Linked DNA regions of Homo sapiens: regions 2, 3 and 4 are each linked to region 1. Evidence: fine-mapped expression QTL. A gene starts in region 1. Each other region holds a variant in brackets. All regions are shown on one strand. Distances are from middle to middle. Region 1 holds the start of FRMPD2 (FERM and PDZ domain containing 2). Region 2 has its middle 26 kb from the start of C10orf71-AS1. Region 3 overlaps FRMPD2 (FERM and PDZ domain containing 2). Region 4 overlaps FRMPD2 (FERM and PDZ domain containing 2).

What was found. PIP is the estimated chance that this variant, and not a neighbour inherited with it, causes the effect.
Region 2: its variant is fine-mapped to the expression of FRMPD2 in cerebral cortex (GTEx, PIP 0.97).
Region 3: its variant is fine-mapped to the expression of FRMPD2 in testis (GTEx, PIP above 0.99). The same link has a PIP of 0.9 or more in cerebral cortex and prefrontal cortex.
Region 4: its variant is fine-mapped to the expression of FRMPD2 in prefrontal cortex (CommonMind, PIP 0.95).

The regions. Positions count from the first base shown.
Region 1 is chr10:48,270,548-48,278,424 of GRCh38, forward strand. It overlaps FRMPD2 (FERM and PDZ domain containing 2), which reads right to left and starts at 4,149. Exons shown (of 29, transcript NM_001018071.4): 1 at 3,996-4,149. The coding sequence starts at 4,020.
Region 2 is chr10:49,268,899-49,276,775 of GRCh38, forward strand. No RefSeq gene overlaps it. Among named protein-coding and RNA genes, the nearest start is that of C10orf71-AS1, 26 kb to the right of the region's middle. The variant G/A (reference allele first, on the strand shown) is at 4,029.
Region 3 is chr10:48,168,505-48,176,381 of GRCh38, forward strand. FRMPD2 (FERM and PDZ domain containing 2) reads right to left here. Exons shown (of 29, transcript NM_001018071.4): 23 at 7,342-7,435; 24 at 6,366-6,451; 25 at 4,442-4,589; 26 at 2,490-2,704; 27 at 91-189. Among named protein-coding and RNA genes, the nearest start is that of FRMPD2, 100 kb to the right of the region's middle. The variant T/C (reference allele first, on the strand shown) is at 3,417.
Region 4 is chr10:48,179,040-48,186,916 of GRCh38, forward strand. It overlaps FRMPD2 (FERM and PDZ domain containing 2), which reads right to left. Exons shown (of 29, transcript NM_001018071.4): 18 at 6,514-6,606; 19 at 5,735-5,842; 20 at 5,527-5,643; 21 at 1,764-1,969. Among named protein-coding and RNA genes, the nearest start is that of FRMPD2, 92 kb to the right of the region's middle. RefSeq lists an enhancer at 7,690-7,877. The variant G/A (reference allele first, on the strand shown) is at 3,226.

The sequences.
Region 1 (7,877 bases):
TCACTCTACATGCTCCAAAGTTACCAACCATCAGTCCATCCCCTCCACAGCCATGTCTTAAGCTCAGACCCGTTTCTTGAGCTCCTGCTTGGTGATCCCAGGATGTCCTTTAGACAACCCCCTTAGATGTAGAGAGCTGAATTCACCTTCCCCCCACCTCCTCCTCTTTCAACCTCTCTTATTTGAATACAGCAAATGGCATTCCCACCACCTAACCCCTCAAGCCAAACATTCAGACGACATTTTTGTCTCCTTCCCATCCCTCAACTTCCCAGCCCGTTAATCACCATCTCCAAAATCTCTCTAAAATCCGCCTGTTTCTCTCCAACCCCACCACCACTGACCTGGTCTAAGCCACCAGCACCCTCCCCTGAATGACCACTGAAATGTAAATTCTACAAAATGGTTTCCTACAACCATACCTTGCCCCTGCCCTGATCCATTCTCTGTCTTGCAGAGTCCTCTTCCTAAAACACAAATCTGACCATGTCACACCTCGTGAAAACTTTCAGCCACTTTCTATTCTCCAAAGGATCAGCTCAGATCCTGAGCAAGATTTGCAGGACCTCAGGCCCACCGCTTTGGACTGATCTCTAGCAGCTTCCTCTTTCCCCCATGGCCTTTTTCCAGCCTTAGACGCACCACAACCCCCTTGCCTCCTGTCCTTCTGCAGGCTCTGTGGGGACACTCGCATCTGGAGCTCCTTCTTCCCCCACTGGCTGAATGACTCAGTAAATTAACAAGTGAATACTTCAGATGCTGCCTGCACTCTGGACTGGCATCATACAAAAATGATACTGATAGAAGAAACAAAAGAAATTCCTAGATGGCACTTTTTTAAAATGTCTAATACATTTACTCTCCAGCCAGACACTGTTTAACCCATCTTGAATCTATTGAAGAGTGAGTTCTGACAGCTCAGCCTTGATCTGCCTCCTGCCTGGCACCAGCCCTCCTGGAACTGGTTCCTGTGCACCATCCTACACATCTCCTTCCTGCCTCCCTTCACTACCTACTCTATTTCCAACAATGTTGGGCTATGATAGCTCAAGCAAATACAGGAATAAGGAGGCTTACAGCCAAGGCAAGAAAAAAAAAGGGAGGGCAGTTAACAGTAGAGCTGCCAGCGACCAGTAAAAGGAAGCCTGAGGAATAGGAATCAGCCTCGAAAGCAGACTTCTGCCAGGAAAGCAGCTAAAAACACTGATATCTCAGGGTGAATACAATTCAGGAGGGGAATGAGAATAGAAAAGCATAGTGGCTGGAAGAGCAGGCTCCGAGGTCAGAGCTGGATTGATCCCACCTCACCGTGGGCAAGTTACTTCCTCTCTTTACTCGTTTATACCATGAGTTATTGTGTCTGGCATATGGCAGTTTTTCAATAAATCCTAGCTATTCATATTATGAATCCTGAGTATATGGAGAGGGCAGGGAATAGGCTAGAGACAAGCCAGCAAAACTGGGGTTTCAGACCAGAAATGACTTCACTAATGGAGCTGCAGGTAGCATTGTCCTGGGCTGCACACCGCAGCCCTTGCTATTCCTGAGCAGTTGAATTCATAGTCATCTATTCATGGTGTTCTTTTTAATAAGTCCAACATTTTGGTGAGTGACAGCTTCATCCCCAGAGAGAAGGAAGTATTCTTCCTAATTCTTCCTTCGTGCCCCCTTCATTTGCACCCATGAGTCATTTTCTCACCACTCTGTATTCTGCTCCTTAAACCTTTCTTGGATTCTGTGATATGCTGAAGAAGGCTCCTACTGGCCTGTGAGAGCCAATTGTTAAATTTCCAGAAATTTTGTAAGCTGGTCATTAAACACAGCCATTACCAAAAAGTATTATAAAAATCTCCAATTAAATAAGTTATATTAACAATATGTTGAAACTCACCATTTCCAAATTATTTTACTGCATTTTACTGTTGTCTGTGCTTTGGAACTTATTTAAATGAAATACATTTCTATGATGGAAATACTGTGTAATGGTGTGCTGGTGCACAGCCCTTCCACCTTTGTGTTCAGCGATATCACATTGGGAGCTTGTGATTGGCCATGGTGGTAGTATTTATACCACAAAAATTGGCAAAAGCTACAAATTAGGGCTTGGTTTGCTGTTTTTTCATTCCCTAAGAAAACTAAGAAAGTGATGGAGAAAATGTTCATGCAGATTAAACCTAAAAGTGTGTCGCGTCCATAGTTGTTACATTGTGAATAACACAAAAATTGGGAAAACACTCTTCCAAATTCAAAAACTATGATCTGATCCAGCAGTCACTCATGTCATTGACAGATGAGTGAAGTTAAGACAATCATCTTCATTGTTTCACTTTCTTCTTACTTGTCAATGTAAACAAAAATATCAACCAACATTCATATTGGAACTACATTCAGTGGTCAATTGCAAACAGGCTGACCAAGGGTATAAGAGTTCAGCAAAAATCAACAAATGCATGCTGTGAGAATCAAATGGCTATATAGAATTTGTAATAAAGAGTATTTTATATTTTATTACTTGTAAATTGTGCAATATACATCCTTCATATCAGTAAAATTTATAATGAACTTATTAGATGCATATGTATTTGTTTTTGCTCACAGTGCTGGCAGCACCAGCTTGGAGACCTCCCCTTCTCTACATTCCACTGTTGTTTTCTTAGGTTAGGCCATCTGTCATCATTCCAGGTTTCATCCTCTCCAATCCCACACCCATATTGCTACTAGATTAATCTTCTTAATATTAAATGCAGACACGACACATCCTTCATTAAAACTACCAGTGCCTATCTGGGACCTTCTGAGTGAACTCTGGGCCATAGAAGGCCTTCCTTGCTCTCCCCTGTTCACCTCTGCAGCCTCCTTTCTTATCAGATTCCCCTGTTCCCACTTTACTAAAGTTAGGCCAAACTGCCTGCTGTTCCCAGAGCATGCTTTACTTATTCATGCCACTGGGCCTTTGCATGTGCTTTTCTCTGCTTGGGATGCCTTTTCCAATCCCCCTGCTCCCAACTCCTGCTAGTGTTCGCTTAGCATTAAAGCCATGCTCAAGCAACACCTCTCCCAGGAGCCCGTGCCACCTCCATTTCGGCACTTGCTATCACCGCCAGTTTTCATGCAGGTCCAGCATTCTGCCCCCCGACCCCCACTGTCCTACAACCTGGAAGATCCTCTGGGCTGGGGGAGACATCCCCAGCATTTGGCATGTGGCCCCAGGAGATACCAAGTAAGTTCTCGTTGAATTAATGAACTACTTAATTGGTTTCAGCTACAGCCTATAGCAAATCACAGGATTTAGCCAGGAGAAATAGACACGACTCATCTCTGAACTCAATTGTTGCTTTAAAAAAAAAAAAAAGTTGTTTACACTGTTGAAAACCTCAACTGAGTTTTTTCTTTCCTTTAAGCATACAAATAAAGCCAGGTGAATCATTTCTTTTCCATTGTTTTCTGGAAGTCAGCTAGGCATACCCTGAGTCTTCTTACTTTAAACCACTGATACTCTTTAAGCAATAACCAAAACACTTGCTTCTGAAAGATAGTGACAGCCATGATTTACTGGGCTACTCAAATGCTCCAAGTATGTTCTAAGTGCCTTACGCGTGTCACCCCATGAATCCTCAGCAACATCGTAACGCATGGGGCATTATTATCCCCATTTTACAGGTAAGAAAAACGAGTCTTAGGAAAGTTAAAAGAGTCATTTGAATTTGCACAGATGCTGAATAGCAAAGCAGTGATTCAAACAAGGGGTGGTCTGATTCTAAAGTCCATGTTTTCTCTTCTGAGCCCATTCTTTATTGCTAAAAAACAAATACAATGTCTATCAGGCTTAGCCAATGGCCTGGAACAAATAATACTCCAAATAATACCACAAAGGGCACTGACACAGGTCCTTGCCCAGCTGTGTTCTTCTTATTCCGGATACCTAGACCCAGTAAGAAGTTTGCCCTTTCCCTGACCAGATTTATAGGAGAAAACTGAATGATGCCAAGGAATACCTGCGTCCTTCGTTAAAGGCTGCATCCAAAAGTCTCCGTGACCAGGTCTAGGCCTTCATCATGGGACAACTTTCCAACAAGGAGCAGGGGTCTCTTGCAAGTCTGTCCGCGGAGCTCCCTGCCACCAGCACTGTTGCCGCTGTCTTTGTTTACTGCTTGTCACTAAGCACTTGCTGCCCAGCGAGTGAGTCAACAAGGCCCCTTCCCTTTCCTGCCACCACTCTCATTCCCTGGGTCCTGCGCAGTCTCTGGCCTGTTAGCAGGCACTGCCACCCCAGCAGCCTGCGTCCTCAAAGCCAGTGACCCGTGAGAGAGCCAGGAAGAGCTCAAGTGGATTAGGTGCCACTGAAGGCAATGGGATTGCTGCTCAGCAGGGCTTTTACGCTGATGTCTCTTTATCTCCTGGCCCAATCAAAAGAAAGAGCTCTGCAAGGAACTGGGGGCAGCCCCAGAGCAGAGGCTTAGTGTCATCAACTCAAGAGTCCTCCATGCCCTTTCATAGTGTCAGACATTGGACCTGCAACCAACAGGACAGGGAACCATGTGAAAGCAGCAGGAGGAAATGATAACCTGGATCTGTCTGTGAGAAAGCAAGAAAAATGTGGTTAGAGAAAGGGGGAAAGGAATTCTTACTCTTTCTGGTGCTTGGATTCAGAAAGGAACCAGCAGAGATGGGGAACAGCAAGAAGTAGATCATAGCTCTGTAGTAGAAGGGGCAAAAGAACAGATCTCTCAAGCCCTTTAAATCAATAGCAGTGTCAAAACTGAGACGTATTTATTTAAAAAGAAAACATGAGTTTTTGCCTGACTACAGAATAAAATACTAAAATTTGAGGCCGGGCACAGTGGCTCATGCCTGTAATCCCAGCACTTTGGGAGGCCAAGGCGGGCAGATCACGAGGTCAGGAGATCGAGACCATCCTGGCTAACATGGCAAAACCCCGTCTCTACTAAAAATACAAAAAATTAGCTGGGCCTGGAGGCGGGTGCCTGTAGTCCCAGCTACTCCGGAGGCTGAGGCAGAAGAATGGCGTGAACCTGGGAGGCGGAGCTTGCAGTGAGCCAAGATCGGGCCACTGCACTCCAGCCTGGGTGACAGAGCGAGACTCTGTCTCGAAAAAAAAATCTGATGAAACTCAGTGCTGGTGAGGGCATGGAGAATGAGTACTCTCATATGCCAATAGTGAGATTACAGATAAGTGCAACTTCTCTGCAGGGAATTTGGTAATATTCATCAAATTTGTAAATGTACATATCCTTTGTAAACCCAGCTGCTAAGAAGTAACCCCATGGACATTCTTGCAAAAGTTCACCAAAGCATCTGAGAAAGGATGCTCTTTGCAGTGTATTTTGGTAGTAGCAGAAAACTGAAAGCCACTGAAGTGCCCATCAACAGTGATTATTGTAGTTCACACACAGTAGAAAACCAGCTATGCAGCTGTGTAAAGGAAGGAAGTAGATCTGTGTGTGCTGGCATATAACAATTGCCTAGAAAATTCTTTAAGTGACAAAAGGTATGGAATAGCCTAGTATGTTTCCTTTTATTACAAATAGGTACATAAAGACCAGGTATATTTACGTATATTTATGTATACATATTCTTTATACACTGTAGTATATTAGAATATTATGTAGACATATTCTTGTGGTTCTGGAAGGAATCACAAGCAACTTAATAGTGGTTGCTAGGGGAAAGAGTTTTGGCTCATTATTTAGTCAGGAAAATTATTGTTCATTTTGGTATTTTCCCCCTATAACCTTATGTTATATTACTTGAAAAAAACTAAAAAACACAATGTTTTACATTTTTTTCTGCTTAAAGCTATCTATATTGACATTCCCTGCTAGCTAGCAAAACATTTCACAATATCTGCAACAATCTTTTACTGTTTTTTCCAAACTTGTCTTCTCATCAGATTCAGCCTTGAAGACGATAAAATGCAGATTCCCAGGCACCACCCTGAATCTGCTGAACCTGAATCTCTGGGCCCGAGCCAGAGCATCTGTATTTTCAGCAAGTGTCCAGGTAATTTTTATTTAGTAATTTTTTCAGGCTGACCACGCAACCTTTCTCCCAGAAGAAGAAAGTTGACTTCTCCAGTCATGTGGCTCGTTCACAACAGAACAAAAAGCAACACCTAAGTCATCTGCCAACAGGTAAATGCTGGTCTGCTTAAAGTCACCACCACTTTCACTTTTTCTGTTAAAAATACTAGCAGTAACCCCCTTCTATTGTTGCTCTGCTAACATTTCATTAAGTCCATTTTTTTGCATAAAAATTTTATCAATGTGTTTTTGTTTTTCAAGTTATCAAAGCTAATAGTTTCTCTCTGAGTTATCTCTGTGTCATTCCCTATATAATTTTGTTATATTTTATATATTTTTATTTTTTAAGGTTATTTTCCTGTCAAAATTCTTTATTGCGTATGATCATTTAAAAAAAAAACTTTATTTTAGGTTCGAGAGTACATGTGAAGTTTTGTTACAGAGGTAAACTCATGTCATGGGGGTTTGTTGTACAGATTATTTCATCACCCAGATATTAAGCCCAGTACCCAGTAGTTATTGGTTCTCTGTCTACTCACACCCCCCCAACCCTCAGGTAGACCCCAGTGTCTGTTGTTTCCTTCTTTGTGCTCATAGTTCTCACGATCCAGCTCCCACTTATAAGTGAGAACATACTGTATTTCATTTTCTGTACATGAATTAGTTTGCTAAGAATAATAGCCTCCAGCTCCATCCATGTTCCCATGAAAAACATGATCTCATTCTTTTTTATGGCTGCATAGTATTCCATGGAGTATGTATACCACATTTTCTTTATCCAATTTGTCATTGATGGGCATTTACATTGATGCCATGTCTTTGCTATTGTGAATAGTGCTGCCATGAACATAAATGTCCATGTGTCTTTATAATAGAACAATTTATATTCCTTTGGGTATATACCCAGTAATGGGATTGCTGGGTAAAATGGTATTTCTGTCTCTAGGTCTTTGAGAAATTGCCACACTGTCTTCCACAATGGTTGAATGAATTTACATTCCCACCAACAGTGTATAAGTGTTCCCTGTTATTTGCAACCTTGCCAACATCTGTTTCTTTATACATATTTTATTAATAGCCATTCTGACTGGTGTGAGATGGTATCTCATTGTGGATTTGATTTGCATTTCTCTCATTATCAATGGTGTTGAGCTTTTTTCATACACTTGTTGGCCGCATGTATGTCTTCTTTTAAGAAGTTTCTGTTCATGTCCTTTGCCCACTTTTTAATAGGGTCGTTTGTTTTTCTCTCGTAAATTTGTTTAAGTTCCTTATAGATGCTGGATATTAGACTTTTGTCAGATGCATATTTTGCAAATATTTTCTCCCATTCTGTAGGTTGTCTGTTTACTCTGTTGATAATTTCTTTTGCTGTGCAGAAGTTCTTAAGTTTAATTAGATCGCACTGTCAATTTTTCCTTTTGTTGTGATTGCTTTTGGTGTCTTTGTCATGAAATCTTTGCCAGTTCCTATGTCCTGAATGGTATTGATTGCCTAGGTTGTCTGCCAGTGTTTTTATAGTTTCTGGTTTTACATTAAGTCCTTAATCCATCTTGAGTTAATTTTGTATATGGTGTAAGGAAGGGGTCCAGTTTTAATATTCTGCATGTGGCTAGCCAGTTATCTCAGCACCATTTATTGAACAGGGAGTCTTTTCCTCATTGCTTGTTTTTGTCAGCTTTGTTGAAGATTCACATGGTTGTAAGTGTACAGCCTTATTTCTGGGCTTTCCATTCTGTTCCATTGGTCTATGTTCCTGTTTTTGTACCAGCATCATGCTGTTTAGGTTACTGTAGCCCTGTAGTATAGTTTGAAGTTGGGTAACTCAATGTCTCC
Region 2 (7,877 bases), 1.0 Mb after region 1:
GACCCTGTTGGGAGGATGAAAAGATGTGGAGAAGATATCTGCAAATCACATATCTCACAAAGGACTTACATCTAAATACAAAGAGCTTCGAAACTCAAGGGGAAAAAAGCAAATAATCAAATTTAAAAATGGACAAAAGACATGATCAGATATTTTACCAAAGAGGATGCACAGATAAAAAAATAAACACAAAAAAAAAGATGTTCAACATCAGCAATCACTAGGAAGTGCAAATTAAAACTACCAAGAGCTATCACTACATACCTGTCAGATTGGCCTTTTACAGTCTTTAAAAAGTGATGCGGAGGAATGGATCACTCATATATTGCTGACAGAAATATAAAATAGTACAGCCATTCTGGAAAACAGTTTGGCAGTTTCTTAACCAAGTAAATATGCAATTATCATATGATCTGTCATTGCACTCTTGGCCATTTAGCCCGAAGGAATGGAAATTTACCTTCACACAAGATCCTGTGCCTATGACAGCCCAAGTCCAAGGCTTGGGAAGTGGTTGGCTAAATTGGAAACTGACCAGTTCCAAAGGAAAGTGACAATGGATGACCAATGGAGAACCCTGTTTATAAGGAATGCGTGAGCATGACATTCATGGCATTTATTTTCAGGGACACCCCTCATTTCATGCTGTTCGACACTTTCTGTACCCCACTGCCTATCTGTATGTCCAGATCTCTTGGTTTAGTCACTGCTGCCTCAGCCTGTGACAAACTAGCAGGCTTCAACCTGCTTTGGGAACAGCACCTTCATCTCCTGGACCCCACACTTCAGGCCTCTCTCACTTTCTGCCTCAGACCCTTCCTGATTCCAGGGCATGTGGGCACTTCTGTGGGGATCCACTGAGCATTCACACAGGTGCAGTCCCAAAGTGCAGAGATGTTAATACCCAGGGCCACCCTTGGCCTGTGGGAGGAGAGGAACCAAAAGATGAAAGACTCCCACCTAAGCCCCAGGAAGACAGTTCTGAAAGACATTTCAAAAGGCTCTTCAGAAGATTCCAGCCAGTGGAGTACCAGTCCTCTCCCTTAGTTGCGAGCAACGCCTGTCATGAATCCTGGAAATGCCTCTGAGTTTTTCTCTGCCCACTCCCTCAGTCCTAGACTTGGCATCCCTGGAACGCTTCCCAAATGCACTGCCTGTCTATCCATTCATTCATTCATCTGTCCCTCCATCCCCTCATGCACTCATTCATCCATCTGTTCATCCATCCACTCATCTGTCCATCTACCTATTCTTTATTTCATTCATCTATTCATCCATCCATCCATTCACATATCCATCCACCTTTCCATCCATTCCTTCATTCAGCAGACCTTTGCTGCATTCTGGGAGCCCACATGATGCCAGGCCCTGGAAGATATCAATGACTATGACACGGTCCTTGCCCCTGAGCAGCTCATGGCCTCTCCAGGGAGGTGGATGCCACATCCATTGCCCTTGGCTAACGAGGTACCCCTCCTTTTCCTCTCATTGTGCCCTACACTTCCCTCATTAAAGAGTGTCAGAATTGTTTGTATGACTTCCCCCTGGGCTGTGAGCTGCATGATGGAGAAAGCTCACACTCACACAGATGAACACCCATAGCACCATCCTCAGTGCTCTGCATAGATAATTCTTAGCAATTCAAAGAAGCAAGAACTTCACAGCTGAGGAAAATGAAGCCCAGAGGGGTGGAATGATTGGCCCAAAGTCACACAGGTAGTTCAGTCCAGACACTCTGGCTCCAGAGCCTGTGCCCTGGCCTGTGACCTTCAATGTCTGGTCGGAAAGCTGGCTGGAATGCTGTGTTCACTGCAAAATCCCAGAACCTTGTGCAGTGCCTGGCCCCTGGAAAGGCTCAGCAGAGCAGTAAGCACAAGGTGCACAGCAGCACAGGGAAGGGGCATGGCTGTCTGCTGGGTACCAGAAGGGAGAAGAGGGAAGGGAGAGAGGAGAGGGGGAGAGAAAGAGGAGGTGGGAAGGAAGGCAGCAGCCTTGAGCAGGGCCCCTGGGGCTGGGATGTAAGACCTGAAAGAGGATCAGTGACAGTGATATGAGATGCCACGTGAGCAGGGCTGATTCTGAGGGGCTCCTATCCAGCAGGGGTGAGAAATCATTAACACACTTGGGCAGGGAATGTGACAAAACCAGAGCATCAATGGCAGGGCTGCTGCGTGACACAGGCTAACAGCAGGGAGACTGGGGCAGGGACAGTGGTCAGGTTGCAGTTGCAGGGACCTGGGTGAGGCTGTGGGAGCAGGCCAGAGGTAGGTGGCACCTGGGGAGAGGGGAGAGGAAGGGAGGCAGTGGAAATGTCCCAGCTTGTGTGAATGAGTGTGTGATGGTGCCCCTCAACCCCCAAAATCAAAGCAACCATTTCCTGAGGGCCTACAGTGTGCCAGGCCCTGGGGCAGGCCCCGACATAACATCTAGCTTTGCAATGGCAACAGTGCTACAAGTGGGTTTTTTCCTTCTCATTTTACGGAGGAGAAAACTGCCTGAGCTTCTGGAAGCTCCCATGGGCAGTGCACGATGTGGAGGATGGGGTGGGGAGGTCCGTGTGACTCCAGGGCACCATGCCCCAGGAGGCTACACTCAGGTCATCGTCACTCAGCAAAGAGCCTGACACGGTGACAGCTGACCAGGCTTTGTGAGTGGCGTGGTGGCCAAGAGCCAAGCTACAAATCATGCCACGTTGCCACGAATCTATGTGTGGTCTGCTTGCTCCAGCTGTCTCAGCTCAACCGGATCTATTGACGATTCACTAATCCAGCCGATAGCTGGGCAGCTGACCCACAAACTCATGCTGCTGGGCCCAAGGTGACACCAAGCCTGCTCCCAAGCCCTCAGATTAGTGGGTGTTAGTTCATCATTAAAGAGTCGACTTCAGCATGATTTACCTTGCCCAGGGTGCCCTGGACGGTGCAGCAGCAGGCACCCCGAATGTCTGCTTTCCTCTGTGGCATATCTCTTTCCTCGAGCATCCTGGTTTAACCCATCTATCCATGGCCATCTCAGTAAACTTTATTCCTGACAACAAGCTTCAGTGACCTGAATGGTGGCCCCCAAAAAGATATGTTCAGGTCCAGATCCCAAAAAATCTGTGAAGGTGACTTTACTGGGAAAAAGAGTCCTTGCAGGTGTGATTAAGGATCTTGAGATGAGGAGGTCATCCCAGTGAGCTCTACATGCAATGATGGGTGTCCTTGTCTAAGAGAAAGAGGGTATTTGAGACAGATAGAAGAGGCGGAGTCAATGCGACTACAGAGGCAAAGATTGGAGTGATACAGCCACAAACTGAGGAACAAATGGGGCCACCAGAAGCTGGAAGAGGCCAGGAAGGATGGGCCTCTAGTGCCTTCAGAGGGTGCCTGCTTCCACCTCGACTTTGGACTTCTGGCCTCCAGAACCATGATAGAATGAAGTTCTGTTGTTTTCAGCTGTGCAGCGTGTGGGTAACTGGTGACAGCAGCCACAAGGAAGTAACTCACACACAAGCTGACTTGGGTTTCTGACTGGAGTGTGAGTTGCTATTTGCAGGAGAATTTGTGATCTCATCCCTCAGGCCCAAGAGCTGGTCGGGTCCTGTTCTGCCCTTGGCTGGAAAGGGAATCCCGAGGTTGCATCTGCTGCTTGGGTGTGGAGCTCTGGGCTGGAGCAAGATGAGAAATGGGCCTATTTATAAATGAACAGAGCCAGAGGGCGGGTGTGGGGTCGGCCGAGGGCTTCACCAAGGTCAGAGGCCCAGTCCCAGGGGGACAGGAGCATTACAGAGAAGAGCAAAGCCCTGAGAGGAAGGCGGGGGCCACGCCAGGGCACTTGTGGCCTCTCTGAGCAGCGAGGCTGTGGTCTCTTTCTGAAAGGCCTAACATAGGAATGCCCAGCTGGCTTCCAAGTCATATCTGGTGTCTCAGGCGAAGGGCAGGCCCCAGTGGGTGGGAGCAGATTCTTTCCTGCTGCCTCATTGCGGCTCCGAGAAAGGAAGTGTGAGTGCCCAGGGTGGGCACCCTGCACACAACCGCAGCCCATCC[G/A]TGGGCAGTTGAGCCTGCCATCTCGGGGGGATGCTGTCACGGTGAGTGGGCCTCTGTGCACGTCTGAGTTTCCTGCTCTCTTGGCAAGGCCAGGTTGGAGGGACTTAGTGGGCGGCGTCTCAGCCTCGGGCCATCACACAGAGGGCAGGCAGGAAGCTGTGCACAGTGCCAGGGATGCAGGGGGACAGAGACCCTACTGATGAGTGGCTGAGTTGGACCAGGGTCCACCCTCAGCCCATCCAGTGCTGGGCACAGCTGGGCAAGAGGAAATCCCAGCACACTGTCTGGTTTACTCAGCCCCTCCCACAGCTCTGTGCTGGGAGGTGCCTGCCCTCTGCACCAGGGGCCTGGGAGCTGGCAGAAGCCTTTCTCCAGGGCAGGAGCAGCCTCTGGCCCAGCTACTGGTGAGGAACCCTGGATTCCTTCACATCAGTGACCATACCATGTGCACGCCTCTGAGTCTTATGGCCTTCAAGCACCTCTACCTGAAGAAGTCCATCTCTGACTGAGGAGCTTTAGCAGGAAGAAGCATGGTTGCAGCCTTTTGCCTGCTCAGGCCTAGAAGGGACAGCTTTAGTAAGCCTCGAATCCCAGCTCCATGCCCTCCTTAGCTGTGTGACATTGAGCAAGTCACTCAACCTCACTCAGTCTTGTTTCTCACCTGTGAAATGGGGATAACAGGCCTACTTCGTTGAGCTGCTAGGGAGGTTAAATGAGACAATAAATGTGACCAAAGCTCTAATGTAATGCAGATGTAATTACACTAAGAATCTTAAAATGAGGATATCATAATTATCCAGGAGGGCCCTAAATTTAGTGGCAACGTGCCCTTATAAGAAGAGACACGCAAAAAGGAGAGAGATGCCTGGACAGCCGAAGCCAGGTGAAGATGGGGACGGAGATTGGGGCAATGCGGCAACAGCCGCGGAAGCCACCAGAAGCTGGAAGAGGCAGGAAAGGATCCTCCCCTGGAGCCTTCAGAGGGAGCACGGTCCTGCCAAAACCTTGAGTTCAGACTTCTGGCCTCCAGAACCATGAGGAATAAACTTCTGTTGTTCTGAGCCACCTAATTTGTGTTAATTTGTTAAAGAAGCCACAGGAAACTAATACAACAACCTGCAAAATGGGCTAGTAATACGTACCTCTTACTTTTGTGGGAGGATTTTTTAAGTGTTCATAAAAGAAAAAATCTAAAGATCCAATCATCAGAGATAGGTATAGATTATCTGCACATTGACATGAAGAAATAGCATGCAGCCATACAAGAAAGAAGTTTGTAGACAGTAGTGACCAGGCAAATGTTCACGTTCTGGTATCATGTGGGGAAACGTGAGCCACAAACTGAGGAACAAATGGGGCCACCAGAAGCTGGAAGAGGCCAGGAAGGATGTGCCCCTAGTGCCTTCAGAGGGCGCCTGCTTCCACCTCGACTTCGGACTTCTGGCCTCCAGAATCATGATAGAATGAAGTTCTGTCAAAATGTAAAATTGCAAATGTCTCTGAACCTAATTTTGTTTTTTAAAAATATGCTGACACTTTGGCAGGCTGAGGTGGGTGTATCACCTGAGGTCAGGAGTTCGAGACCAGCCTGCCCAACATGGCGAAACCCCATCTCTACTAAAAATACAAAAAATTAGCTGGGCGTGGTGGCAGCAACCTGTAACCCAGCTGCTTGGGAGGCTGAGGCAGGAGAATTGCTTGAACCTGGAAGGTGGAGGTTACAGTGAGCTGAGATCATGCCATTGCACTCCAGCCTCGGCAGCAGAGTGAGACTCTGTTTCAAAAAAAAAAAAGTATTCTGAAAAAAGAAAAAAATAACACTGACCACTGCTGGGCAATATGATACCATGTTCTTTACTTTCTTTGCTGTTATTTTTTTCCCAAATGCTTCTCAATGAATATATGTTACTTTTATTTTGAAAAAGTAAAAAGGAGCTGTTCTAAAATGATTTCTTCCCGCAAATAACACATAATTGTGCAAGAGTCACTGCAAGCCCACTTTCTTTCCACCTGCAATCTCATGACAGCCTTATAACAGCCCCAAAAGGAGGCCATTATTCCATTATTCTATGCTGCCATTATTCCATTCTGTAGGTGAGAAGGCCAGGTTCTGTGAGGAACTTGTCCGAACACAGAGATAGCCTGTGGCCCAGCCTGAGGGTCAAATGCAGCCTGTCAGCTCCTAGAGCCCATGTGAGGGAAGCCACATCCCTCATCCCAAAGACAAGGGCTGCTGCCCGAGCCAGGCACTGGCTGCCGCTATCGGCCTCCCTCTTTCCCGACCATGCCCACGGCTTGGCTGTGTCCATCAAGTTAGACAGCAGGTAAAAGTCTCAAGTGCCCTCCAGGCAGAGATAAATAATGGAGAGCAAGATCCAGGGATTCTGGTTTCTGATGTTTAAATGGAATGAAGGATAAATCATTTCTGCTAACTGTTTTTACCTGGCTGTGGGAAATGATGCATCACCGTCTTTTAAAAGAAAATTAAGCCTTTAATTCCATGGCACATGTAATAAAATGGTACTTCAGCTCTCTGCGCTGAATATATAGCCCGTCCTGTCCTAATTTACTATTTCGACATGGCCTGAAATGTTCTGAAGTTATTAATTTGGCAATATATTCAAGCACAAAACCCGGCCTTCAAAGGCTGTTGAAGCACTCAATTAACGCAATGGAAGGCTGTGTGGGAGCCAAGAGGGGCACATGGCAGGAGGCACCGTCCTGGGAGCTCTGGGTGCATGGCTCACCCTGCCACTGAGTGCTGGGGTGAGCTGGAGCCTCCATTTCTTCTTCTGTAAGGCAAAGACTATGGTTCCTAACTCACAAGCGTGCAGTGCCTGGCTCTCACCCTTTTCCTCCCTTACCTGCATACCAGGTTGCACTAGCCAGCTCATTCTCATTCTCTTCCAACACTGCCTCAAATGCTACCCTCCTTCTTCAGACTGTTTGACAGCCCACGGGATGACTGCAAATACACACATATGTGTGGAACTGCCCATCCCAAGGCTCTGAGCTGACACTCCCACTGTTTTTTGAAGAATAGGCCTTTGTGAACAGAGAGCTGGCCCGATGGTCCATGCAAAAACATACAGGGACAAAGTTTCAGTGTACGGTAAAGGACAAGGGCTTGGTAGATTCTCGACTCATGTTCATCTCCCTGCGTACTCTCTCCTCTTCTGCCCTCAGGTGATGCTGATCAGAGTAGCCACCACAGCCAATGGTCAGCTGATCCCACAAGCCCTCCCTGCTCCTTAGCAGTTGAAAGAGCCACTGCATGGAGACATCTGGATGGGAACACTGTGAGTGGCAGCCCTCCTGTCCTGCAGAAACTTCCAAATGGGCTCAAAGATACCACTAGAATCTCCAGGGCGAGACCCTCTCCTCAGCAGAGGGGCCCGTGCAAAGCAGTCCAGCCACCTCATGCCTTCTCCAGGGCAAAGCTTACCTCCTGTTTAAGGGACAGGATTTGGGGTAGTTAATTTAGCTTCTAGCAACTCACAGGGGAATTACAAACCTATGTTTGAGGGGGGAAAGCACGTATCAAATTCTCAATTATGGACCTGATCCCGCAGCAATGGGAGTGAGCCAAGACCCTTAAGCTGGTGACCTGAGGCAAGGACAATGGCTACTGGTGAGACTGATTTTCCAAAGGAGCCAGGATGCCCAGGCTACTGGCCAGGCGACCTTAAGCAAATTATTAGACAATAATAGTACCTCACTCTTAGGATTACCGTGATGATTAAAAAGGGTCAATATGTGACAATCACTCAGGGCTGTACCTGGCACATGGGCCCAGTCACCATGTGCTAGCTGGAGAATGTGCCAGCTTCCCAAAATTTCACCAGACCA
Region 3 (7,877 bases), 100 kb before region 1:
CCTATCTACAACCCTCTTAGGACCCTAGAGTCTGGAAAAGGGGGGCCCAACCAGAGCCAGGTAGAGAGAGTAGAAGACACTGCAGCCTACCTGCCATTCCTGCTCCAGCTCAGGCAGCGCACCTGGAGGGGGTCGGCAAAGGAGGAGCGTGACTTCCTGTGGGGCCCCTCTCAGTAAATGCAGCACCTCCTGCGAAAAACCAAGATTCACTGTTAGATTTGGGCTTGCATTGCTGGGGATGCAGTGATGTTCTCCCCACTGCGTCCCAGGCACTAGCTCCTCCTCCCTGCACCTTGATCTATTTCTCACTCCAGAGAACTCCGGAGAACCCTGCTGTGGGCCTGACTTTTCAAAGTGCAAGGAACCAAGGTCAGTGGCCTGCAGCTTCCACAAAGTTGATGCAAGATGCTGGGCTGTGCATCACCTTTGTGCAGCTTGGGTTCTGGGAACCTCTCATCTGTAATATTGCAGTAACCTCCTCTCCGCTCCCTGCCTTCACCAGTGTCACCCACCTGCCTCCTTCCACATTGCTCAAGGGAATGGCAATATCTGCCAATACCAATGCCTTTTCTTCAGAGAGAGAAAGAATGACTCCAACAAATAGCTGTTCATCTCAATTGCCCTTTCCTCCCAACCTGCCCTCATCTTGGGCCAGCAATTTTGCAGCCTCCACCATCTGAATCTCTAAAGCCTGACCCTTGGCTCTGAGCTTCCTATCAGGGCTCGGCTTGGGCTCTGGGAACCTCTCACCTGTAGTATTGCAGTGACCTCCTCACTGCTTGCTGCCTTCTCCAGTGTCACCCACCTGCCTCCCTCTGCAATGCTCAAGGGTAGTTTTCCACAGTGCAGATATAACTGAGTCCTTCCCCCACTGCACACCCTGGCTGACTCACTTTTCCCTCAATGTAAGCTCCAAGGCATAGCACATAGACCCCGTTTCTGCCTGCCTCTGCCTCTCACCACAGTTCCCTCTCTCCCATCTACTCCCCTCTGCACCCACGTCCTAAGCCCCTGCCATGCTGAATCTGTTGCTCCAAGCCACCCTCTCAATGTCCAGGGTTCAAGGTTGCCTCGATAGCTCCTATTTCCTATTTAGACCAGGATTTCTCAAACTCTTGGCACTGTTGACCTCTCAGGCTGGACAATTCCTTATGCGAATGCCTGTCCTGTGCATTGTAGGTTGTTTAGCAGCATCTCTGATCTCTACTCACTAGATGCCAGAAGCACTCATCAGTTGTGACAATCACAAATGTCTCTGGACTTAATCAAATATCCCATGAGAAGGAAATAATCTCTGCTTAAGAACTGCTGATCAAGACACTCCCCAGTCCCTGCTTCAGCCACACAGGACTTCCAAGGGGTGCACTTCTTTCCTGGCTCACTGGTGTGAGCACTGCAGCATGGGCTTTCATCTCTCAGGATACATATCTCCTGCCATCACCGCTGTTTTCTGTCCATGAGCTCTGAAACTGCATGAGCTGTCTTCCTCTGTGTCTTCAGTCTCTCATAGAGTTGCCAGCCCAGCAGTGGTTCTCAGAGAAGGGTTCTTGGATCAGGAGATGGATGGATGAAGGCATGCCCTCCCACCCAAGCATATGGTGTTCTAGAGACCTCCCCCCAGCCCTGCCCAGAGCCACTGTCCCCCTTTGTCCATCTTGCTTTGTGTTTCTGGAGCTGACTTATAAAGGCTGCATGAGGCTTCCTGTTGGGCTCAGCTAGGGGAACACGGCAAGAGACCAGAGACAGGGAGGAGCGGAGGTCATTGCTCCTTCCAAATTCCTCCCTTCAGGTTGCCATGGGACGACTACAACCTCAGCCAAGGTGAGAGCTCATGCCAGCGAGTCCCCTCCAACAGCTCTCCATTCCTGGGGTGGAATAACTGCTCTTTCCCTTCCCCTTTGGCCTCAGGATAGGGGTAACTGCATCCCACTCTTCCTAGCCCTAGGCCACAACATGCTCCCTTGAGCTTCCTAACAACCTGCCCACACCTTTATTAAATGTTCCTCAAATGACTCCATTTTCTTCCAGGACTCTGTCTAATATATACAGTATTTCATTACTCTCTCTTCTTAAATTGCATTTTTTATCATAGACAGGACAATCAGTGTAATAATGTATGAAAAGCTGTAAATGTGTTGAGAAATGGGAAGGAGAGCAGAAAGGGACCCACTCTAGTCCCTTCAGCCCCATGCCCACCTCCCAGGATGTGTGTGAAGAGACGTCAGCCAGCACAAAGGCCAGGGCTTTATCTTCAGCTTCTCTCATGAACCCAGTGAGAAGCAAGGCTGACTCAAGGTCAGATATTTAAAAACAGAGATTTTAAATTAAATGTGAGCATGTACCACTAATTACTCTCTTTGTGTGATTAAAATCCGGGCTGCTGGTATGATTTTTGAGAGCCCAGAGTTTTCCCCACGGCAGCAGGCTAGTAAGAGGCAAAGCTGGGGCCAGCCTGCACAGAGAGCTGCATTGCCCATGACCCCCGGCACCTGGAAGATGAGGCCTTCCGTGGACCTTCCATTCACGGCCAGGATAATGTCACCAGCTGCAATGGCCCCATTCTCCTCAGCTGGCTGCCCCGGAAAGAGCCTCTTAATCCTCACAAGATCACTTTTGAGATGGCTGCAGCTCTCTTTCTCCATCTGCACGAAACTGAATCCCAAACCATTGGCATTCTTTTTTAGTTTGACTTCAAACTTAGGACCTGTAGTGTGGGATGTTGATAAAAATAAATTCTTCAGTAGATTACAAGTGAAATTGACCAGTCTCAAAATGCAAATTGTCAAGTAGATGAATTATTTCTTTTACGTTCAAATAATTCCTTTGCTAATTTTATGACAGAGTACATTATGTATGTTATAGATTAGTGCTGTCCAATAAAATATAATGTGAGCTATAAATACAAACCACAAATGTCATTTTGAAGTTTTCAAATAGCTACATTAAAATAAAAGGAAAAAGCAAACAAAAAATAAATAAAACAATTTAAAAAGTAAAAGGAAACAGGTTAAATACGCTATAATCGTACATCTAATTTAATCCCATATATCTAAAATATTACCACTTCAACATGTCATCAATATGAAAAAATTATTAACGAGATATTTTTTATTCTTCTTACGAACTAAGCTTTCAAAATCCAATACATATTTTATCCATTTAGATTGGTCACATTTCAAGTCCTCAATAACCACATGTGGCAAGTGGCTACCATATTGAATAGCACAATTATAGATAACTCAACTATGTTTATACATAAAGATATAGCTGCTAGGCATACACAACATGCTCTTGGCATTTAATAAAACTTGTATCACATACATTCCTATTACTCCTTTAGAACTCTAGTCATTTGTAGTATACTTGAAACTAAATTTTGCATAATTAGACCATGGAGAAAATTATGGCCAATTCTA[T/C]GGACAATGCTTTAGCTGCCATTTTGTTTACCCATGTAGGCTGACCATAAGACAAAACAGTTGCCTCTGGGCACCAAGGATGAACAGAGCTGGCAACCTACATGGTCTGTCCACCAAAGAGGCCTCTGGGCTGCCCCGCTGGCATCAATGCACAGAGGGACAGAGCACAGCTTGCAAACTTCACCAGGGCAAGAATGGAAGCATGTGAAGCAATTATGTGAAGCAATTATGTGAAGGTGTGTCACACGACCAGTTCTACCATCGCCCTAAGGCCTCCTCCACTCTTTGGAGTCCATTTCTCAAAGGCCCCAAGGGAGTGAGCAAAGGGGTGAGGACAGAGGAGACTTGATTTAAACAGAAGCATGCCCCTTTGCCCCACCCCTACCCTATGGCTGGCTTGAGTCTTCTGCAGCAAAATCAGAAAATCTCTATGAAGGGACTAAAACATGGCTAAGGTCCAAATCGTTCTTACTGAGGAAATCAGCGTGTTCCTGGCAAATACCAAAATCACAAGGGAATTGCAGAGGGGCAGCCCATCGGAAAACGTGCAGTTTTGTCCCTCTAAACGATCTTTCGTTTGCCTTTTAAAATGATGCTAATAACAAGGCTAGATTCCTGAACCTTCTCTCCCAACCTGCCTAGTCATTCCTCAAATAACTTTGTTACAAATGACTTGGCTGGACTGTGAAGCCAAATGTATCTGAAAGTGTATGACCCTTTCAGTCAATTTCATCCTAAATATTCACACAAACATTAACATTCTGGCAGCTGATCAAAGGACTGAGGAAGGCTGGGGGCAGAAAGATGCCTAGAAATAATTTGGGGAAAATGCATTTGTTTCCAGAAACCTATTCCATGAGATGGGCTTCCATGGCATGAAAAAGCAGATCTCAGCATGATCACTATGGCTCGCTTTCTTTTCAGGACCCAGAGGAAGCCTTCCTGCCTTTCCCTTTTGACTTGACAATTCAAAAGCGGCACACAATAACATGACAATAGTAACACTCAATTCTCTCCCCTCTCACCATCTGTCACTGAGACACAGCTCGAAGGCCTGCCAGGCAAGGCTGTTACCAAGGAAACAGCCGTGCGTTCATCTCCCATGCTGTCATTAGCAGAAGGACACTGCTGTGTACTCCTGGGGACTCTTCTCTCTAAGACCAGTCTTGCAACCTAGAAGGAAAGGTGAACAAACTCAGTTTACACTTCATATGGCAACCAGGAGGCACTCCCTTGACTCTGCAAATGCTTCTTAATTTTCGAATCCTTCCTATAAGCAGACTCATTTGAATCTCTCAACTAGCCTATATATTGGGATCTAGACCCAGATTTCTCAGTGCTTATTAGACAAGTGCACCTGAAAGCAACACATGTACCTCCACTTCACACATGCAGTGCCACACTCATCTTCCTCCCCTCACTCACCCTCACTTCCCCTCCTCGTTCTTCCTAAAACACTCCTCCCCTCGCATTGGCTCACCCCACCATTAACCTGCCAAGGGCCACATTTGGAGTGGTCCAGCTCTCCCCCATCTGGTTTCTAAGATGTGAACATTCCCCATCAAGAACAGCTCCTCAGTGCCCCCTCCCCTCCACCTCCTCTCTCACTGCCAGTGACCCGCTGGGCCGTGGCAAGCTCTGGTTACCTTGGCTCACTGGACCCTGTCTGCACCCTTCTTGGTCCACCCCATCATGGCTGCCAGTGAATTGGTCTAAGACAAAAACTGAACATGCAACATTCTTGATTTAAAGTCTCCAATGCTTCCCATCACCTAAGACCCAAACCCATGGCACCCCAGGTCTGTACCACCTGCCCTCCCCTTTCTTTCCAATGTGATTTCCCACATTTCTCCCCACAACACCATATACCCTTGTCGCCCTAAGTGTGATTCAAGAACCAGCAGATAGACATCACCTGGAAGCTTCTCAGAAATGCCAAGCTCCCATTCAGGGCATGTGGCCCTGCCTTCATCTTCCTGTTGCACCTGTCACTCAGCACCTGGCCCAGGATCCCAGAGGGACAATTCCTACCTGCTTAAGCTGCCAGGAGGCCAGCCAAGTACCCTCTCTACCCATGCTCATTAGCAAAGGTCTAAATATCAGAAGGTGCCAATAAATTATGGCTCTGTTCTCAAGATAGGTCAACCAAAGTCACTAATATAAGCAAATTTCACCAGACACCAGAAAACCGCTTTGGGAAAGAAAGCGAAAAGTGGCCAGAACATTGCCCCAAGCTTGCTGGAAGGGCCTTCAGGAATCCCTCCTGTCTCTGTTGACTTTTTAGTTGCCAAAAGAGGGTGATGCCAGCTCTGTGGCTCAGGACACAGAGGCAGTTAGAGGCTCCTAACCTCAGGCAGAGGACTCGGCACAGTGGGATAACATCGAGTCACTGCGGGGCAGGGAATAAAGGGGACATAAAGGATGAATGGCTCTGCTCTTGGCACCCTGAATTCCTACCTCATTGTGAGGAAAAGAATCCCAGGACACTCTGACCCACGCCCTGGTGGGTACAACACAGGGTGAGGGGGAATGGCATGAACAGGGAACGGAGTGGGGTCATCCTATGCAAACGTAGGGAGGTAAGAAGGCCCATGGACACAGGGCCAGCGGGGCTGGGGCAGCCAGAGCCAGGCTAGAGCAGTCTCTTCACTCCATCTTCTCCATTCCGCTGTCTGATTCCAGAATTCAGGCAAGCCACCAGTAAGTTTCTAAGGCTATCTATGGGGGGTGAGATTTTTTTTACTCAGAAACATCTATCTGCTATCTCCTGGGTTTCACATCCCCATAGAAAAGTGAGGGTAAGAAGAAATGGAAGAGAAAAAAAAAACTAACAAAGAAAAAGTCTTGTTTCTTGCCTGCCTCCCTCCCACCCAGAGGCGATTTCAGCTTCTGATGTTGTTCAGGAAAGTTCCGGAAGGAGGGGAAGCTGGTCAGCAACAGTCCACTCACCTGCCCAGGACCCGTCAGGCACTGCACAGCCTGCTTGTGGGTGAGGCCGCACAGAATCACTCCATCCACCTGCAGGAGTCGGTCACCTGGGAAAGGGATAGATGTCATGTCATGACCTGGTGCTTGAGGCTGCAGGAGGTTCCCTTCCAGGAGGCCCCTGCCCGGCACCCCTCCATGCAGCCTGGAGAAGTGGGAAAGGAAGCTGAGGTGCCAGGTGTCCCCCTGGAGTCAGCAGGAATCCTGCCTCTCTGAGCAGTCTCACTCCCTTCTTCTCAGGCACATCACAGATCAGGGATATAAAAGCCTTTCTATTATTGGCTCACAGAATGGTTGAGCCAGCTCTGTTCAACCTTATCCTTCCTCCTGTTTTCCTGTGAAACCATTTTTGGAAGTATTTTCAAGTCACTTAGATATTTATATCTCCAGCATGTATTTTTTTTATTTCAAAAAAAGGTCAGGGAGGCATGGTTGACGCTGGGGACACCAGAATTCTAGGGGAAATGGAGATAAGTAAGATCCTAGGTTCCCCTTTTGGCTCAATTCTGGCAGTTTTGGAGACCAGTAAAAATCACCCCCTTCCATCAGAGAAGTGGGAGCTGAGCAAGGGCAAACAGAAGGCTCAGGTGTCCTCCCCGGATGTGCGAGTGAGTTTACCGAGGCCCACTTGTCCTCCAAGGGAAGCAGTATGTTTTCCCATGGAGGCCAAAGAGCAACACAAGTCTTTTAAGTCTTCTACTATTTTTCTATCACCTATGCTTCCCAGTGTGCCACTGCAGACCCCCCAACCTATCAAATGGGCAGGGCAGGTTCTATCACCTCCTTTCCAGGTGAGAAAAGTATGACCTGGGGAGGCAATCATTTGCATGAGTTTTCAGAATGGGAGCAGGGCAAGGCCTAGAGGCTGCCCCTCCCAGTGCAGGGCTCTTTACACCATGGAGCACAGAGTTCCCAATGAGGACCCATCCCCATCTCTCACCCTGTAGGATCTGCCCTTCCTTGGCAGCTGGTCCTCCAGGAACAATGGATTTCACATAGATACCACCATATGGCACACTGGTGTTAATGCCACCCTGAAAAACACAACAAAAAACTCACCACCCATCTTTCCTCCTCCAGGAAGCCTCCCCAACCTCCCCAGCTAAGGGAATCCCCACCTGCCCACCACTCTATCCCATGACCTTACCTCCGACTGGCACTGTCTTCTGTATTCACCTGTTCGTTTAGATTGTATTCTCCACTGAGCAATAAGATTAGGTGTTCATAAGCTTAACAATAGCAACTATGTGAGAGATCTGGGCATGTCCCCAGCCCAAGCACTGGTACAAGGCGGGTGCTCAGCAACTGCTCACGTGGGATGCACCACTATCTCTATATAGGTAGTGACCAGCGTAGGTGGATATGGCTGTGGGCCTGAAGGCTTGTGCCTGGCACGTCTTGTGTGCTTTGATGGGCCAAAGGATATGTGCATTTTTCATTATAATACATGTTGCCAGATTGCATCCCTATGTGAAT
Region 4 (7,877 bases), 92 kb before region 1:
TAAGCACTCAATTAATGGCAGCTACTATCGTTGTTCTTCCACTGGCCTCCTGCATCCAGTTCCTCATGGGATGTTCTGTCCAGGTGAGCACCATGGCCAATTAGGAAGGCACTGTCATTCATGGAGCCCTATTGCATGCCAGATCCTTGTGACAGAGGTCAAGACACACTACCCCAAAATAGGGCACCTTGGCACATTGGAGGAATTGGAGAAACAGCACATGAGGGAAGGTTTCTCTGACCTTCCCCTGCCCTTCTCTTCTGAAGCAGGCCCTAAAACCTAGGAAGGATTTTCTAATCTTCCCCCGAAGCAGGGCACAAGACCCTCAAGTGAGAATGCCCTCCCTATATCTGGAAAAATGGAGCATCTTATGTGGGAAGACACAGGGACTGAGAGAGGAATCTGAACAAGCAGGCCTTGCTGAGTTCCTCCCACCTTACATACTCCTGCTTTTTGTCTTATCTCATTTCTCCATGACTCTCCATTCTTCATCAAATATACTCAGGGAGAACTGTTTCTTCAGGTCATTTCCATAAGAAGGCTCACATGTCACATAAAACTTATAGTAAATACACGTGGATGCTTTTCTCTCATTAATCTGTCTTTAGTTACAGGGGTCCCAGCTGATGAAGCTAAGATGAGTAGAAGAAAGATACGGGTTTTATCCCCGACACTGGGCATAGTACCTTAGTTTCCACGGCTGTGGACAGACATCATTATCTCCATCATAAAAAGAGAAACGAGGTTGAAAGAGGTGCAATAACCTGCCTGTTTCAACCAGCAAGTTGTCCCAGCAAGAATGAGAAGGGCATACACTCAGCCTGAGTAAGGGAGGATAGGTCGTGGGAGACCTGTTTTCAAAGGTCTTGCCAGCCTTTGGAGAAACCAGTAATATCAGTTCAGCACCTGGGGCTGGAAACACTGGGTGCTGTGACCACCCCTGAGCCTGAAGGGCGAGAGAAGGGAGTGGTCGATGGACCCTGATAGGAGCTGTGCTCTTTGTAGAGGGGCACAGGCAACCTGTGTCAGCACAGGGAAAGAGTGGAATGAAGGGTGTGCAACTGAGACTCCAGCACTGCCACCCTGTCCTCACTCATCCCACAACTGCGGGCTCCTGCTGAGGCTTCGACTGGGCAGAACCAAGCAGAACACAGCAAGGTGACTCAGTCCATGAGCACCAGCTGTGCAGGGCCCAGAGCAGAATGGAGAGGCTGGGGCATGGGTCTGGCGGGGCCTGAGAAGACAACACCACTGGGAATCCAAAGAGACGGCAGAGGACAGCAGAGCTGGGACTGAAGCACACAGCCCTCCATACACCTACTCCAGATCCCATCTTCTTCCTCCATGGGGTATGGTCAAGAGCAAAGCCACTGAGTTCCCAGCTTGAGGACCAATTCAAGGACAAGAATAGGAGGTGCCTGGTTGCCCACGCCTTGCCATTGGCAGCAATCAATTTCCTCATGGTGCTATTATCACAACAATTATAATTAGTGACTAAAGACTCCAGAGGCACCCACACTGAGCCTGTGCCCAGACACTGTCCTAGAACTCTGCCTTCTTCTATGCGTTTTTCTCAACAACCATGCCATGCAGGCATTTGCTTCTGTATGCAAATGAGGAAGCTGTGGCTCAAAGGGGCTAAGTAACTTCCATCCACCTGACATGGAAAACAGAGAACAGGAAGGGCCTAGGGGCCAGGCTGTTGGGCTTCACAGTCTGTTCTCTTTCATCCAGATCTAGAAAGTAAACCAAGGGATGATTACCTTTAACGGCAGAAAGGAAAGCTGATGTCTCAGCCTGGGCACTAAGCTCTGCACCCCAGCCATGTCTAGTTCTTCAGTATTTCTGTCCTGGTCTTGTGTGTGTGACAACAAACTTCCCTGGTACCCGAAGCTCAGGATGTCTGTAGAGGAGACCCCAGAATTGGCTGTGCTATTCTTTTCTTCATCTGGGTTATTTCCACCAACACCTATAAAAACAAGCCAAGAAAAAGTCAACAGCTTAAAAAGGCCGGTTTCTTGGTGGCATCTCTATGTGGGCACAGCGTTTTCCTCCAGTGACAGAGTGATCGTTTATAGCTGCTCGGGTACAATATGAATTTAGCTCCTCCTGAAAGATGTTACATTTAGATTAGAGAAAGGGAAGATTCTACATGGGATTTAGAAACCTAGATAGAGCTTACGTGACCCAACTATGAATGCGTAGGCTCAAAAGAAGTTCATAAGGCCAGCTATCCCTTATTAAGCTCTAGCCATGTGATGGGCACCTTAGATATACATATAGGAAGATATGGACATCTTCCCATCTTCTCAGCAAACCCACCAGGAAGGTGTAATCCCAGTTCAAACATGAGAAAACAGAGTCAAAGCTATTAAGTGTCCTGCCCCAAATGCTACAGCCAGCATGTGGGAACTGTCTTAAACCCAGCCTCTCCTGGACACCCCACTGAGCACATCTGCAGCCACCATGTGATCCAAAAACCAACGTATCAGGTCCTTTTGGGAGGCTTGGTAATAACCAAACTGCAGGCCCCTGTGAGTGAAAGCTAGGCCACTGATTCCTGCTCACCCTGTGTCTGACTCGTGACCTGGCATAGAACAAAGAAAAGAACGTGAGGTTGTGAATCAGTAGAAAAACCTTGGGCAAGGTGCTTAACATAACTGAACCTAAATTTTCCTGTATCTAAAGTAGAGATAATATCAATATCAATAATATTGTAGAGTTGGTGAGGCTTAGAGATTATACGTACAGAAAAGATTTTACATATGTTAAGAAAGATAAAAATATATATGTATATATGAAAGAATATATATTCCCTCATATATATATATATATATATGGCTCTCATACACACACACACACACACACACACAGACACGCACAGCTTAGTACATGGTAGAGCCTCAATAAATGTATCTACTGTTAACATGTTATTATTAGCTGCTCCACAAATATATGTGGGAGGAATGAATAACAGTTAGATTTTCTTTAGACCTGGATACAAGTAGATTTACTACTTTTGATACAGACTCATTAACACTCAGGGAAGTGCCCAAACTCACATGCTGAATGAATTCAATTTAAATAAATCTGATTTAATGAATTTGATTTGAAGTTATTCAAATCTAAAGGTATCCAGCAGGGAGTGGCAGGGCCACTGTTTCATAATGCTGTATTTCTGGCCCTTTCATTCACAGATTCTGTCATCATTGTCCTTCTGGCAGT[G/A]TCATAAGCATCGGCTCATTCTCTTCCACATCCTCCATGAGAGGTGAGGATGGGACTTACGATTGAAATGAAAAGTCAAACCATGCTGCAACTGGTGTCCTGCCTAGTAGACATATGAGCTGGGAGACCTTTTTTGGTAAAGGAAACTCAATTTATTGTAGACCATGACAGATGCTCATGATGGACATTTTATCTGTCTGATCCTGATCTCCAATCTAGCCCAGCTGCCTTAACAGCAGCCTAAAGAGATAGAAGAAAGTCATGGTAGTCAAGTCTCTGCCACGGAGACCCAGCCAGCATCACCAAGGAAACATCTTCCTCTGGCAGTGGCCCAGCTATGAGGAAACCCCACCATGATGAAGGCAGCATTGCCAAAAGGTGGCTGGGGTGCCACAGTGAAAGGACATTTTATTCCCAGCCATTGTGGGAAACTCATTGTCTGGAATTCTAATGTGAGGTTGTGGTTTGAGAATAGCAGACCTCGAGTACTGCTTTTTGACAACCTCCATCACAGCAGGCCATCCTTGGACTATGCTGAATTGTGATTTGGTCACCTGCATTGTGTTTCCTGACAACACATGGGATGGTTTGACTGCTCCTGTCAGTGGAGGATGTGGAAGAAAACACAGGGATTGCTGAACCACTGCAGAAAGGAGAGCAGTGGTGCTGGGAAATCCAACAGACAGCAAGCCAGAGACTGGCATTGGAGATGTACTGAGGCCAGTCCCTGAGAAGGCTTCAACCCCAGGATGAAGGGTGTGGGGCTGAGACCCCAGCATGGCCACCTTCCACCACCCATAGCTTCTGGACAGGGGAGCTGCATGGCACTGTGTACAGGTACAAGAGTGAGAGAGCATGCATGCAGAAGTGTTCAGAAGGCAAGGCAAATGCAGTGCCTGCATTTAGTACCTAGAAAATGCTGGCTGGTGTGACAGGAAGTTCTCCTGTATACAAGGGAAAACTGTACAACACCCCTCAAGTGTGAAGAAGCAATCATGAGCCTGAATTTGCAGGCGGTCTGCTGTTAGTTTACAGGATCACCCAACCAAAAAGCAGCATTGGTCTCAGGAAACTAGGGAGAAGGGATGTTAGCCTACTCCCATTACTTCCTCCAGGCTCCTCAAGCTTGGTCCCGATAAAAACAATAGTATTTTCCTTTAATATAGGCAGTTGTTGCTCTCTCATTCTTATCTAAAGGATGAAGAAAAGCATCATCAAAAAGTACTTTACTCTTTAGGTTGATCAGGAACATGCACATCAAGTAAGAAGAGCGAGCTTGCCACGAAAATTCAGCTTTAAGAAAAGGCCAGGTGCAGTGGCTCATGCCTGTAATCCCAGCACTTTGGGAGGCTGAGGCGGGCAGATCACTTGAGTTCAGGAGTTCCAGACCAGCCTGGCCAACATATTGAAACCCCGTCTCTACTAAAAAATACAAAAATTAGCCGGGTGTGGCAGCGCGTGCCTGTAATCCCAGCTACTCAGGAGGCTGAGGCAGGAGAATTGCTTGAACCCAGGAGGTGGAGCCTGCAGAAAGCCAAGATCGTGCCATTGCACTCCATCCTGGGTGAAAGAGTGAGACTCCATCTCAAAAAAAAAAAAGGAAAATCAAATACCGCATGTTCTCATTTACAAGTGGGAGCTAAATAATGAGAACCCATGATCACAAAGAGGGGAACAACACACACCAGAGCCTACTTGAGGGAGGAGGATGGGAGGAGAGAGAGGATCAGGAAAAATAACTATTGGGCACTATGCTGAGCACCTAGGTGATGAAATGGTCTGTATAGCAACCCCTGTGACACGAGTTTGCCTGTAATAACAAACCTACACATGTAGCCCTAAACCCAAAACAAAAGATTAACAAAGAACAGTGCTTGTCTCCTCCCCAGCTGATTGCTATACCTATACAAAATATAGAAATTTTGTATAGGATTCTATACAAAATATAGAAATCCTGGAGCCGACCCTATCAACAAGGACTTTGGGTGGCAATAAAAAGGTCCTCCCTGCCATGCAAGGAGAGTTGACAGAAAAAAAAAGACTGGTTGTATCCAGCCGTGTCTAACAAAATTAGAGTAGGTTACTCCCTTTCAGCAAGACAAGCATGGTAACGCCCATTCTGCCCCTGAAATTGCAAAGCTTATTAATTTGTGCCACTACACTGCTTCTTTGCAAGCCAACACCATGAGGAAAGCAATATAGAAGACCTACGTGGACTTCAAGGTCTAGTACCTCACAGTAATCATGTACTCCTGAAAACAGGGGAGCCTCTTAAGCTCCCAAGAGTGGGTTAAAACATACCTTTTGACTGAGAAATAATTAATTCTATGTTGTCAGGGGAATTCTGGATCATCCTAACAGCCATGTTGAATGTGAAGCCCTCCAGACTGATGTGATTCAGGGCTAGTATCTGCCCTCCTAGAAAAATAAAACATCTCAATAATCCTTCAAGGAAATAAAAAAGAGTGGTTTCTTAAAACAGCATCTCTAGTAATTTAAAAAGATGTACCTGGTTTGATCGTTTTTGCTTTTTCTGCTGGTCCTCCAGGTATAATAGAAGATATAAAAATGCCAGGGTCAGCTTGGCCTGAATACTCTCCCTCATTAATGACAAACCCTGTAATCCAAGATGATAGTCCATGATAAGATGATACTTAGTGATTTTGCTGTTCAGAGAGGTTAGGTTATTTCCCTCATATCACACAGCTACCAAGTGGCATTAGCTGATAGTTACAGTCAGGTCTTCTGATCCTCAAATAGAGGATCTTTTCTACTTTACCATGATACTTGGAGAAAGGTGGATTGTTCCCCATTAGTAAGCACAGCTAAAGCTAGGAATACAAACCACCAATATGCACTGGATTTTGCTCCAGTAGATAATGAGACATAGGAAAGAAATGATTTTTAATCAAGTACCTTGTCTCCGTACCTTGTTTCTTCTACAGTTTTTCGGGTCTTAGAAAGTGGTCACTAGTAAGAGGTGAGATAAATTGACTCTTCTTCCCCATAGCTGACTAGAGGAATGTTGTTACATGGTATTAGGGGAAAAAATCTTTTTCTGCATTGTACTTAGATGCACCCCAAAAAGAAAAACTTGGAAACAAAAGTCCCATTGCTCTTTAGGAACAATTAAAGGGAGAAAAAAAACAGAAGTGATTACCAGAAAAGGCAGACTGGGAGAGGAGGGATAGGAAAGGGGAGTAGGCAAGTTGAAAGGGAAAACAGTACCCACCTCCCCACTTTGCCCAGCAGTAGAGACTGGGCCTCACCTACAGGGAGCCCTCTTACCAAAACCACGATGTGGGTCACGTTTCAGTGTCACACGTACAATTTCTCGGCCCGGTTCAGCTATAAAGCTCTTCCTCCTATTATTCTTTGAGCCTAGAGGTAGAATCAGAGCACCACATTGTGCTTTTCCCCCAAATTATTTGGGAGCTAATACAAAAGGAGTAAACAGCATTTCACACACATGCGCGCACACACATTCACACGCACACAATCCTGAAAACAAAAGTAGCTCATATTTAATCTCCCAGCAGTGCTGGGAATGGACACCTGAACACACACTCACATGAGCCTCTCTGGAGTGTCACTCAGTGTTGCTCAAGTTCCAGCTTAAAGAGCAGAGGCAAGAACAGGATGGGCTATGGTGCTTGTTTTCTGTATGACTTACTGTAGCTATTTTTTTCCGCATTGGTTTTGGGACAAGACAGAGGATGAGCAGAGATGTATTAATAATTGCTGAGAGTCAAAACAAAAACAAAAGCTAAAACAGAGGTGAGACAGTAAAGCCTTCCCATCCCAGGCCTCAAATAACCAGGGGTGACAAGGTGCCAGCAGCCCAGCCTGTGTGACCTGTGGTCTTCCCCTGGCTTGGATCATGGAGGAGCCCCAGGCAGAGCCCTGAAGCTGTTCCTGGAGAGCTGGAGTCCTGGAGTGGGGCACTTCAGTGTGTGCCACAGTGTACTTGGGAAAATCCCCAAATGGTGACCCACCACTTCAGTCCTTCCATGTCTCTCCCTCCCCCAGGGACCTTGGCAGAAATTGGCAGACAAGTTACTTGTAAAGAGTTGCCTGGCAGTTTTCCTGATTGATATGGTTTGGCTGTGTCCCCACCCAAATCTCAACTTGAATTGTATCTCCCAGAATTCCTGCATGCTGTGGGAGGGACCCAGGGGGAAGTAACTGAATCACGGGGGCTGGTCTTTCCCATGCTATTCTCGTGATAGTGAATAAGTCTCACGAGATCTGATGGGTTTATCCGGGGTTTCCGCTTTTGTTTCTTCCTCATTTTTCTCTTGCTGCCATCATGTAAGAAGTGCCTTTCACCTCCCACCGTGATTCTGAGGCCTCCCCAGCCATGTGGAACTGTAAGTCCAATTAAACCTCTTTTTCTTCCCAGTCTTGGGTATGTCTTTATCAGCAGCGTGAAAACGCACTAATACACTGATCCAACCCTCAGGCTTAATGCTCACTGAGTAGAGATATTTTTCCAAGTGTCGGATCTCTTTGTCCTCACATTCAACAGGGAACTGGCCAGGAGGATGCATGGCTGAAGGGACTGCCATCTACTCTGTGTATGTTTTCTGGTGAATACTGGGAGGTGATGTTCTGGCCTGCATAAAGAAGCATATCTACAGTGAATGGTGCCT